3 linked regions of the Homo sapiens genome follow. The protein of the gene in region 2 purifies or fractionates together with the protein of the main gene of each other region. This does not show direct contact. Each region holds a gene or a part of one and is shown on either strand. Other genes may lie near its edges. The genes, in order: ATAD3A, NLRC5 and IFIH1.

The links.
Region 1: the proteins of NLRC5 (region 2) and ATAD3A purify together in Homo sapiens (affinity purification with mass spectrometry, with the first as the bait; one study listed by BioGRID). This does not show direct contact.
Region 3: the proteins of NLRC5 (region 2) and IFIH1 purify together in Homo sapiens (affinity purification with western blotting, with the first as the bait; one study listed by BioGRID). This does not show direct contact.

What each region holds. Positions count from the first base shown.
Region 1 is NC_000001.11:1,532,118-1,535,356, reverse strand, and holds the end of ATAD3A (ATPase family AAA domain-containing protein 3A), read right to left. Parts: intron 1,432-3,239; coding exon 1,285-1,431; 3' UTR 672-1,284; downstream 1-671. UniProt on the Homo sapiens protein: Essential for mitochondrial network organization, mitochondrial metabolism and cell growth at organism and cellular level. May play an important role in mitochondrial protein synthesis. May also participate in mitochondrial DNA replication.
Region 2 is NC_000016.10:56,988,278-56,992,356, reverse strand, and holds the start of NLRC5 (protein NLRC5), read right to left. Parts: upstream 2,801-4,079; 5' UTR 2,740-2,800; intron 1-2,739.
Region 3 is NC_000002.12:162,284,003-162,287,729, forward strand, and holds part of IFIH1 (interferon-induced helicase C domain-containing protein 1), read right to left. Parts: intron 1-3,727.

The sequences.
Region 1 (3,239 bases), on a different chromosome or scaffold from region 2:
CGCACGGGGACTTACCGGGGCCACCGAGCCAACCGGCTGCTGTACAGATGTAAAAGGGACCTCGTGGACGCCCGGGCCGGCGGGACTGGACAGCAGCCCTGGGCCCAGGTTGTCCGGGGCTGTGGCCGGCCGGGAGAGTCCAGTGGAAGGTGCTGTCTCTTCTTTTTATAAAGGGGGTTGGGGTGTGGGCTAGGGTGGGGGTTGGGTTAGGGGAGACCCTGCAGTTGGGGGGCAGGACACAAGGGCGGACTCATCCCCAGCGGTGCTGGGGGGCAGGGAGGGTCCTGGGGGGCAGGGAGGGTCCTGGGGGGCAGGTGGGGGCAGGGGCGGCGAGGCGCGCGGCCCGGGCCAGCATCTGTTTGAAGGCGCTGTTTCCCGTGCGCTGCGTCCACCGTCTGTCTGGCCCCAGCCAGCTTGGGCGGAGGGGAGGGGGGCGAGGGGAGCACCCGCGTGTGCACAGCCACAGGGTGGGGTGCAGGTGGCTGGGCCCAGGCAGCATTCAGGCCCCTGGCCCCGCAGTGGCGGGCACTCATGTGAAGCCCACCCCTCTGTGGTCAGTAAATTCTCCAGAAAGCGCCAGCCTCCGCCTCTTCTGTCACCTTTGACCCCAGGGGGACGCTAGGAGGCCCCCAAAACCCCACCCCGTGCCAGCCAAGAGACAGACAGGGCAATGAGGCACCTGTGGGACTTTATTAGGTAAACAGACCCCAGCTCCAGCCACAGGCTTGGACCGGCCAGCTGACAGTGCGGCCTCAGACACCCCCGCCAGGTTCCCTCCTCCCTCCTCTCTCAGGGTCACCAGTGTGTGAAAGATCGGGGCATGCCGGCCACAGGGGGAAGCAGGGTTCAGGCTGCCCCACCTGGGTCTGGCCCTGGCAGGCGCCCCCTCACCTGGCTCTGCTGTGGGAGCCGAGAACAAAGACATCACCTGCCTGGCTCCTGCTGCCCCGGGGGCTCAGCCAGCACCCACCCTCACAGTGGCCTGGGCAGGGGCTGGGGTGCAAAGCCTCACCCTCCCCCTGTGAGCCAGACGGAAAATGCATCTCCCAAGAGTGTCTCGAGGGGCAGGAAGGAGGCCTGCCCCTCCCTAGCCAGTGCCTACAACAGGGGGTGCCCTGGGGGGCAGAACGGCCGACCCGCACCACAAGACATCCTGGGGGACAGAGGCCCTGGGCACAGCCCAGTCCCCACCCAGGAGCATATCCTAAATGTGCAGGGGCCGGCAAGGCAGGGGTGGGAGGGGTCCGCGGCCAGGCTCCGTGAGCTGTGGATCTCCCTGTGGACTCAGGATGGGGAGGGCTCGTCCCCACGCCCAGGCCCTTCCGCCTTCAGCCAGCACATCTTCTGCTGGTGCTGCTGGACAGCATCTTGCACGCGGGTGTCCATCATGGCCTCGGTCAGGACCCCGTCCTCGGAGGCATACGCCGTGGCCTAGTGGGGAGAGAGGCAGCTGAGGGAGGCCGCCATGGGAACCCCCCACCCCAAATGCACGCCAGGGCCCCGAGGTGGGGAGGGACCAAACCAGGGGCTCCAGGATGGCCTGAGCGTGAAACACAGGCTTCCCGCACCTCGGCAGAGCCCAGCACGTGTGTGGACACCGGGAGCAGCCCCTGCAGTGCCCACAGCCCTGCCTGCGTCCTCAGCACTGCTGTTGCTCAATGACTTTCTAATAATAGAAAGCCCAAGGCGGAGCCTCACTGACCGCCGACCCAGGGCAGCTTCCGAGAGGCAGGTGGGAACTGCAGACCCTCTGCGAGTCTCAGCCGTGGCCAGGCAGTGCCCCCGGGTCATAGTGCACCTCAGACCCTCAGACCCTGACCCTCACAGGCCTCCAGGGCAGAGGCAGCCACTGCCCACCTTGAGGCACATGAGTGGTGGCACCAAGGCCACCTCTGCCCCCACCTCCCTGTCCTCCTGAGCACAGGGCTTGGCATCTGGCACGTGAAGGCTGGAGCTGCTGGGGCTGTGGCCCTTGGTGTGGCTTCAGGCAGCCTCAGGTCCAGCCCTTCTGCAATGAACGGGTCACTCTCCATCCCAATGCCAGCGAAGGGCGTGGAGTCCCCAAGGGGAGGCACCCGTGGGTCAGGGTCAGGGTCAGGGTGTGGGGACCCCCACTGGGCACCGTGCTCAGGAGCGCACCAGGACACCTGGAGGAAGCACAGGGCAGGGGACCCTTCCTGGACAGCTGAGTGGGTCCCTCGCCCCGTCCCAGCTGTACCTCCCAGAGGCAGGATTCATCTCACGGGGTGCAGGGGCAGCAGCACACCATCCTCCCACAACACCGTCGCCACGACGGAACCTGCCATGGGGATGACCACGTGGTGCCCGTCCCCTCTGCAAGCGCCCACCCCTCACCAAGAGCCACTGTGTGGGGAGACACTGACCGGAGCCGGACCACCACTGTGGGTCGGGGGCCCGGGAGCGCAGGAGACACTGACCGGAGCCGCACCGCCACTGTGGGTCAGGGGCCCCGGAGTGCAGGAGACACTGACCAGAGCCGCACCGCCACTGTGGGTCAGGGGCCTGGGAGCGCAGGAGACACTGACCAGAGCCGCACCACCACTGTGGGTCCGGGGCCCAGGACTGCTCAACATCATTTTTGGTCTTGAGCGCACCCAAGAGAGGGCAAACAGGTGCAGGGACCCTCAGGGTCCACCCGAGTGGCTGCACCCCACCCAGGGCCCAGCAGAGGAAAGGGGCTATGCAGATGCTCACGGGGCCACCCCTCCAGGAAGCACGGGACCTGGCAGGAGCCCACCAGAAGTGACAGCTAAATGTCACGTGGCGTCCTGGGTGGGATTCTGGGGCAAAACCCAGTCACAGGTGGGTCCAACAGTGACACATGATGTTCACCACGTGGCAAGGTCCCAGGCCCAGGAAGTCTCTGTGCTACTCTTGCAACTTTTCTGGGAACCTAAAATCTTCAAACTATAAAAGTTGAAAGACAAGACCTGGACCTGATGTCTTCACATGTGAATTCACAAAACATTAAGAAGAATCAGTATCACTCCTCAAACTCTTGGACAAATTGAAGAACATTTCCTCACTCATCCTAAGAGGCCAGCATTACCCTCATATCAAAGCCAGACAAAGACACCACAAGAAAAATGACATGCCAATATCCCTGATAAGCATCGTTGGAAAAGTCCTCAACAAAATGCCAGCAAAACCAATTCAGGAGTATAATAAAAAAATTATACACCCTGACCAAGCAGGATTTATTCCTGGAATGCAAGGAT
Region 2 (4,079 bases):
TTCAATTCTGTATGGAAAACAGAGCAGAGATGCTGGGATGGTGTATTCGTTTCCTAGTGTTGTCACAGTACTGCTGTATCTGCTGTCACAAAGTGCCACAAGCTGCGTACATTAAAACAACTGAGATTTCTTCTCTCGCAGTTCTGGAGGTCAGAGTCTGAGATCGAGGTGTGGTCAGGGCCGGGCTCCCTCTGAAGGCTGGAGGAGAGGATCCGTCCTTGCCTCTCCTGGTTCCCACCGGCTGCTGGCCATTCTAGGTGTCCTGTGGCTCCTAGATGCATCGCCGCACTCTCTTCCTCCTCCGTCCATGATTGTCTGATCCCCGTATGTCTCTGTCTTCATGTGTCCATCTCCTCTCTTATAAGGACACCGGTCCTATTGGATTCAAGGCCCATCCTACTCCAGTATGACCTCATCTTCACCAGTTATATCTGCAACAGCCCTATTTCCAAATAAGGTCACGTTAGGAGGCGCCGAGGGTTAGGCCTTCAGCATATCTTTTGTGGGGAGGCACAATTGAACTCATAACAAATGGGAAAAGTCATGCTAAGAAGTTATGGCTGGGTGTGGTGGCTCACGCCCATAATCTCAACACTTTGGGAGGCAGAGGCAGACTGATCACTTGAGGCCAGGAGTTTGAGACCTCATGTCTATTAAAAAAAAAAAAAAAAAAAAAAAGGAGTCCGGGCAAGATGGCTCACGCCTATAATCCCACAGGAGGCCGAGGCGGGTGGATCATCTGAGGTTGGGAGTTTGACACCAGCCTGGCGAACATAGTGAAACCCCATCTCTACTAAAAATACAAAAATTAGCTGGGTGTAGCGGCGGGCGCCTATAATCCCAGCTACTCGGGAGGCTGAGGCAGGAGAATCGCTTGAACCCAGGAGATGGAGGTTGCAGTGAGCCAAGATCGTGCCACTACACTCCAGCCTGAGCAACAGAGTGAGACTTCGTCAAAAAAAAAAAAAAAAAAAAAAGGAATAAAGAACAACAACAGCAAAAGAAGTTTTGCTGAATTTTCCTCAGAGGGGAAGAGGGTATGTGTGTTGGGGTCTGAGGAGGCTGACCCGGCCCTGTGGACACCCGGACAGCTCTGTATCTGATCCAGGAATAAAGTTCAGCATATTGTGAAACTCTTCCAAGATCTTTCCCCTCTGCTTGTCTGTCTTCTTCAAGGATCCATCTCCCCTCACACTTGTGCAGCATTTTAAGGTTGATCAAGGCACTGGGTGGGCGTGTATCATCTCATTCAATCCACAAAACACACTTTGTAGGATAGATTTGCATATGTTCATTTTACAGACGAGAAACCAAAGTTTCGAGAAATTGAATGGTTAGTTCATGGTCATCCAGCAAATACCAGTTGTTGAGAGCCCCAGTCTGTCTGCCGTCCACACCATGTGCAGGTCCACCTGGCAATGTGCTTCAGGAGACAAGGCGGGTGGGCATCATGGATGGCCATTCTGGGCTATGGTTCAGTAAGTTTTGCAGAAAGCACGCTGGATGGGAGTCTAGATACACCTGAAAAGCATCAGATACATCTAGATACATCTGAAAAGCCCATGGCTTTTCAAGGTTTATTTCTCCCTTAGAGAAACGGAAGGTGATTTGAAGGGACAATGAGGCTCCAGGATCTGGCCCCGGGGTACTCTCTGCCTCCTGCTACCCCCGGGTTTTAGAGGCTGGGAACTGCCAGTTTTCAAACTGCTTTTTAGGTCTGCAGAAACTTCAACCTTTTAAAAAAGGAAACATAAGAACTCCAACTTATAAAATGGACGCAAACGGCACTGAAGGTAGGAGCCTCTTCCGACCTCCTCGAATGATCACCCCAGCCAGTTTCAGGTCCTGGCTTTCTGGGTGAGAATAGTGACCGAAAACCACATGGGAATGCAGAAAGCAAGTAACAAAACAACACCCACGTATTCACCTATCACTTATGAGGTTAAATGTTCCTTAGAAATAATCTGGAGATTTGACATTAAGGAATAACTATTAAAATGTTTGTAGTATGCTGGTGGTACTGTGGTTTTGTTTTTAAAAGATGCCTTATCTTTTAGTACATTCTGAAATACCTCAGTTGAGATGCTATGCTGTCTGCCATTTGTTTCAAAATAACCAGCGGTGGAGATTGGGCTACCTAGGTGGCCTTGGGGTCGTGAGTAGGTGGCCTTGGGGTCGTGACTGTCCAAGCTGAACGTGGATAGGTGGGGCTTCATTATATGAAAACCCGCAGGTGCAGAAGGCTCAACCTAATTCTATTCCTTCTACTATTGTATATGTTTGGAATTTTCCACAATAAAAAGTTGTTTAGGCCAAAAAGTCTAAATTGCGTACAATGAACAGTGTAACTTCCGTAATTGTTTTAAAATCAATGAAAAGTTGCAAAGTAAAAGACAGAGAGAGTGGGTGGATCCGGTAGGTGACAGGAGCTGCGCAGGGAGGGGAGCACAGCCGCTTACTGTGTCCCCCCATCCAGGCGACCCTCATCTGCCATCCTCTGCGGGCCGGCAACTCTTCCTCCAAACTGCCGGGGCGCATGCTGTGCGCGCTGCCGGGCCACTGGCGCCCTGTCCGCTTACCCAGCTATCCATCGGCCAGCCACCCGGCCACCCGCACCTCCCGCTCCAGGGCCTCTGACATCCCCTCCACCCCTCTCCGTGCAGAATTCGAACCCCGATCCTCTCCCTTCCGCTCGCCCCAGCCCGGGTCCCGCAGCCCCGCGGCACGCCCGGCACTCACCCTCAGAGCTCCCGGCACTCACCCTCAGCGCTCGCGGCTCCTCCGCGCTCTGCACGAAACTGAAAGTAGAAGCCGCCGCCTAGAGCTGCTCCGCCAGTGCATGGAACTGGCGGCTGCTGCCGAGAAATCACGTGGATTCGAGGTGCCAGCCCGAGCCAGATGGGGCTCGGGCGCGGGATGGGCGGGGGCCTAACACACCCGCTCCCTGCTGCGCCCACACCCTGGCACCTCCCCACAGCCCCGCATCGGACCCAAGGACAGTCCCAGGAGACGTGGGGGCGCTCACCCCTTTCGTGGACGGGAAACTGAGGCAGGCGGGTGAAGGTCGGCTCACATGCGGAGCTCAGGTGGGTGGGGACCCTGGGCCAAGACCCTGTCTCAGTGCCTCAGTGGGGACTGGGTTGGATGGGAGGGGGGATACGGTGCAGGAGGAGGGGACTTAGAACCAGGGGGAGAGCGGAGAGCCTCCAGGATGAACTAGGGGAGAAGGGAATGGCAGCAGCGTTCGCTCCTATTCACCGAACCCCTGGCTGGCTGACCCGGGAAAAACAGTCTACCAATTTATCTCATAAAGTAACCCTAAAATACTTCTGCAGGCATCACCCTATGTTCCAGGTGAGCCACTGAGGCTCAGGGAGGACAGAGGTGAAGGATCTTGCCCCAGTCACAGGAGGAATCACAGGCAGAAAGGGGGAGATGGAAAGAGGTAGGAGGGAGAGCAGGGAAGGAGAGGAGGGACTGGAGGGGGCAGAAGGAAGGGGAGGTGGCTGTCCCAGGATGGAGTCAGGGGCCATCCTCAAAGTCCAGCTTCAGCTTCTCCAGGTTTTTGCCCACATCCTGGGACAGGGGGCTCCTCTCCCCCTGGACATACTCATCCGGTGGGCAGCTGTGCCTGCTAGGAAGGCCTTCTACCCACCTCCCAGACATCCCACAGGGAAGCAACTTTCACTCCCAGACCGCTGGTGCTCCCCTGCCTCCCAGGCCTGGGGTGGGTGTGGGTGAGGACGCTGCAAGGTAGTGGTCAGGACACAAGCATCAGCATCGGACATCCCTGGTTCAAGTCCTACTCAGAGTGGGAAGGACACAGACTTTGCAGTGATTCCTTGTGTGTGACTCCCAGCTTCACCACTCCTGGTTGTGCAACCTCAGACAAATGCCTTGACCTCCCCTGGCCTCAGCTTCCTTATCTGTCAAGTGGGGTATTCCTAGTCTCCCCAGGCCACTGAGGGGCATGGTGGGAATGGATAAGAATGTGGGTGTGAGCTGTATGCATGGGAGGGATTGATTATGTTCCAGTATGTGCCTGCTAGGAAGGCCTTCCACTCACCTCCCAGACATCC
Region 3 (3,727 bases), on a different chromosome or scaffold from region 2:
GTCTCTCTAATCTACCTGTTACAAACACGCTTGAGAAGTTTAGAAAATGCAGACTCCTAAGTCCCACTCAAGAATTACTGAATCTAGGGACAATCTCTGGGGGGCAGAGGCTTGAAACCTTCACTTTAATGACATTTAAGCCTTTAAAATTTGAGAGTCACAGCTCTGCTCTTCTCTCTCTCTTCCACAAAGCCGTTCTTGAATCATTTTCTAGAAGTATTCTTTCCATTTCATTTATGCAAGACAGAAGGCTTCTGAGGAAAAGAATGGAAATTAAGTTTAGTGGAAAGAGACAGCATGATGCAGAGGGAAGAAAGCCCTGAAAACAGCTACTCCAGCCACTTACTTCTTTGTACCTTGGACAAGGTCTCAATCATCTTAATGCTCTCAATTTCCAGATTAATAAAATGAGGATAATGTTAACCTATTATAGGGTTGTGAAAATTAAATGAAATAGAGGATGCTGTATTGTCAGTACTAAAACTTCCACGATATTTCACCAATCCTTTTATTCTAGAAGGAGGGTGCAGTGGCAAAGGAAGACCAGTGGACTCAGAAGATAAAAGTTCGTGTCTCATTTCTGCTGTTTCTTGGCTGGATGATCCCTGAATTGCCAATTAAAGTCTTGAAACTTCAGTTTTCTGATGGGAAAAAATGAGAATAATAAAGACTACCTTATGGGGTTGCTGTGTAGATTTAATGAGATAATATATCTGAGAGTGCTTTATAAAGTGCAATAAAATATTAATTATCATATTATCAACATATATCTCTCATCTTTCTTCTAGACTGTATATTTCGTGAGGACAAGATCTACATTTGATTTGTCTTTAAATACACTCATGCTGAATGATTTAATTAAGAATCTCTGTATTATGGAGTGACATTGCACCACAAAATTCTGCCCATAAAAGGTGAGTCAAAAATCTTCAAAAGAAGCCGCACCTTCTGATGTACAGAACAAAAAGAAGTTGTCACAGGAGATAGCAGATGCTGGAAATCCTGATACTCGCTCTGGGTGGTGTTGACTTCCTACTGAAGGACACAGAGAAAGCCAGATGCAAGTCTGACATGGCTAATTGGGAGGTGTGTGGTCCTCTTGGAGCCTTTTCTTGAGATGTGACAGAGTGCCTGCCAAGACTAATCAAACCCAACTGCTACCCACTTCTGCTGAATCATATGGGGCTGCATTGCAGCATCTGAAGGAACCTGGGATTTATCTCTCATGATGTTGAAGCCCTAGATAGGAAATGGAAAGTCTGGGAACACAGGTGGTGTTTTCATTTCTCTCTGCATTCGAAGGCTATAACTTTGGAAAGGACGGAGGAAGGGAGATGAAAGTAAATGGTGTTAGAGAACAGGATTTCTTTTTTCTAGATCAAGGGTAACAATACCTTGTTGTTGGGCCAAACACAAGATTCAGGTTACTTAGACTTACTGGGCCAGAGGTGTTCTGACTCAATCAAAAAGAATTAAAACTGAAATTAATTTAAAATTCAAAAAGATGGTATAGTAAACAATTATGACATAGATGGAAGAATTAGTGGAGGGATTTCTAGTAATTCTAAGGAGAAAAACAATAGAAAAGCAATAAGGAATTAGAGTCAAGTCCCCAGGTGTCCACACAACAATGCAGTGAATGTGAATAATTAATGAGGATAAATTAATATTTAAACATAGCCATAAATGTGCATTCCGAAGAATCATGTAGATCCAATGCAATGAAAGATTCCTGGCTAGAATATAGCATTGAGAAGAGAAGGGAATATTATAGAAAGGAAGATGCATCAGACACATACAAAAATATGAGACTTGAAAAGATCAATAGTTAAAGAAATAAACCTAAGTATTTGAATTTAGGCTCAGAAACTGACTGCACAAAAATAAATTAAGAATGTTCTAGTTTAAGAGATTTTCAAATAAAAAGGAACTGAGGATTTTGATTCTATGACAAGGTCCAGATAAGTCTGTGGATGCCAGAGGCAAATGCGGTCATAAGCTGGGTGTCATATCTCATGTCTCCTACGCTCTGCACTGGTATGATCTTATCTGTAGTATTTTGCCCAACTCTGGACACCGCATTTAAGAGTGTCCCAGAAAAATGTCTGAAGGAGTATGAGCACTAGGAATGATGACAGGTTTAGAAACCATGTTATATGGAAAACAGTTAAAGGAACTGTGGACATTTATTCCAAGGAACAACAAAAAAAAGTAACTTAGGAGCCACATGATGCTGCCTTGTCTATGTGAAGGGCTGTCATTAGGCTGGAGAATTAGGACTTCGTGTGGTTGCAGAGGAAGGAACTCTAACCGGTGATTGTGGGATTCCAGAGAAACAGATTTGGATGAATACAAATAGGGCTTTCTAAGAGTGTCAGTGTCTTGTTAGTAGGGGGACCTCCTTGATATTAGGAAGTTACCCTGCAGAAGTGAGAGAACCACTCTGCAAAGGAAGAAAGCTGAATCTCGAAGCCCCTTTTCAACTCTATTAGCCTATGTCCCTGTGACCAGATAAGGGAAATAAAGGAAGTAGATGAATTAAAACTAACTCCTAGGTGTGGGGGCTGCATGCTTTGGAGGAGGTGGTATTACTCACAAAGAGACAGGTAAATGGGGAAGAGGAGCCTTTGGGAGGGTAGATGGTGAGGCTGAGTTTGAGAAAATGGCAGATGCTCAAATGGTTTCAAAATTATCAGTTTAAGTAGCTTTGAATCCAGTTAACTTGGTTCTTTTCTTTGGATTTGGCACTTAAAAGCCTCCCTGGTTATGTTACTTAGTTTCATGAGTTATGAAGGTGAAGAGAAAGGAGCAGGAGAAAGCTAGTATTTAAGAGTAAAAGCAGGAGTCATTACTAGGCCATATATAATCCAATTGAAATTTCAGAGCAGGGTAGTTATTATTTTGTTCATTTTGCAGATGAAGAAATTAAAGTTAGAGAAGTTACTAATTTGTCTAATTCAAAGTACCGGTAGGTAGAAATAGGATTCAAACCTATTTCATTTAAAAAAATAATATCCTGTACAAAGGGAATACATATGCAAGTCTATCGGCAAACAAATTTGAATGTGTCACCATTACCAGCAAAATAAATAAAAGTGTTTTAATAGTAAGTATACAAGTATAAAGGAGAGCTCTTTGGACTTAGCAGATGCACACAAAATGCATTTGGAACTACATGATAGGAATCATTCAAATCATGGATTCTAAGTACTGAAAAACAGGATGTAACTAAAACTTTTAGCATAATAGAAATAAAAAATAGAATATTTTACAGTCTACTGCTTTTTTTTATAAAGGAATAGATAAGAACAGAAAAAAGACTTTCTGATCAAGGAAAAGTATGCTCATTTTTATTCCATAAAATAGTAAATATTCATATCCCCAATTTGTATATTTATAAATTAATAAACTGTCATTTATCTGAATAAAGCTCAAATGACTAGATTTTGTTTTACGGTGAAGCAGACATATTTACTTATGAAGATGGCCTTCAAATACCCTAAGATATAAATTATTGAAGGAAAACTTCAGTTGCATTTAATGTAATATGTGTATATTTTATATATATATATGTATACTTCTTGAGCATTTTAAAATCTATTTAACTTGATGTAGATACCAAACCTTCACTTAATTTTATCTCCAAACCACATTATATGTATTCTGGAGAAAGAGGACTTGCCATCTTTGACTAAGGGTCAACAGCTAAAGAGAAAGTAAAAAACAA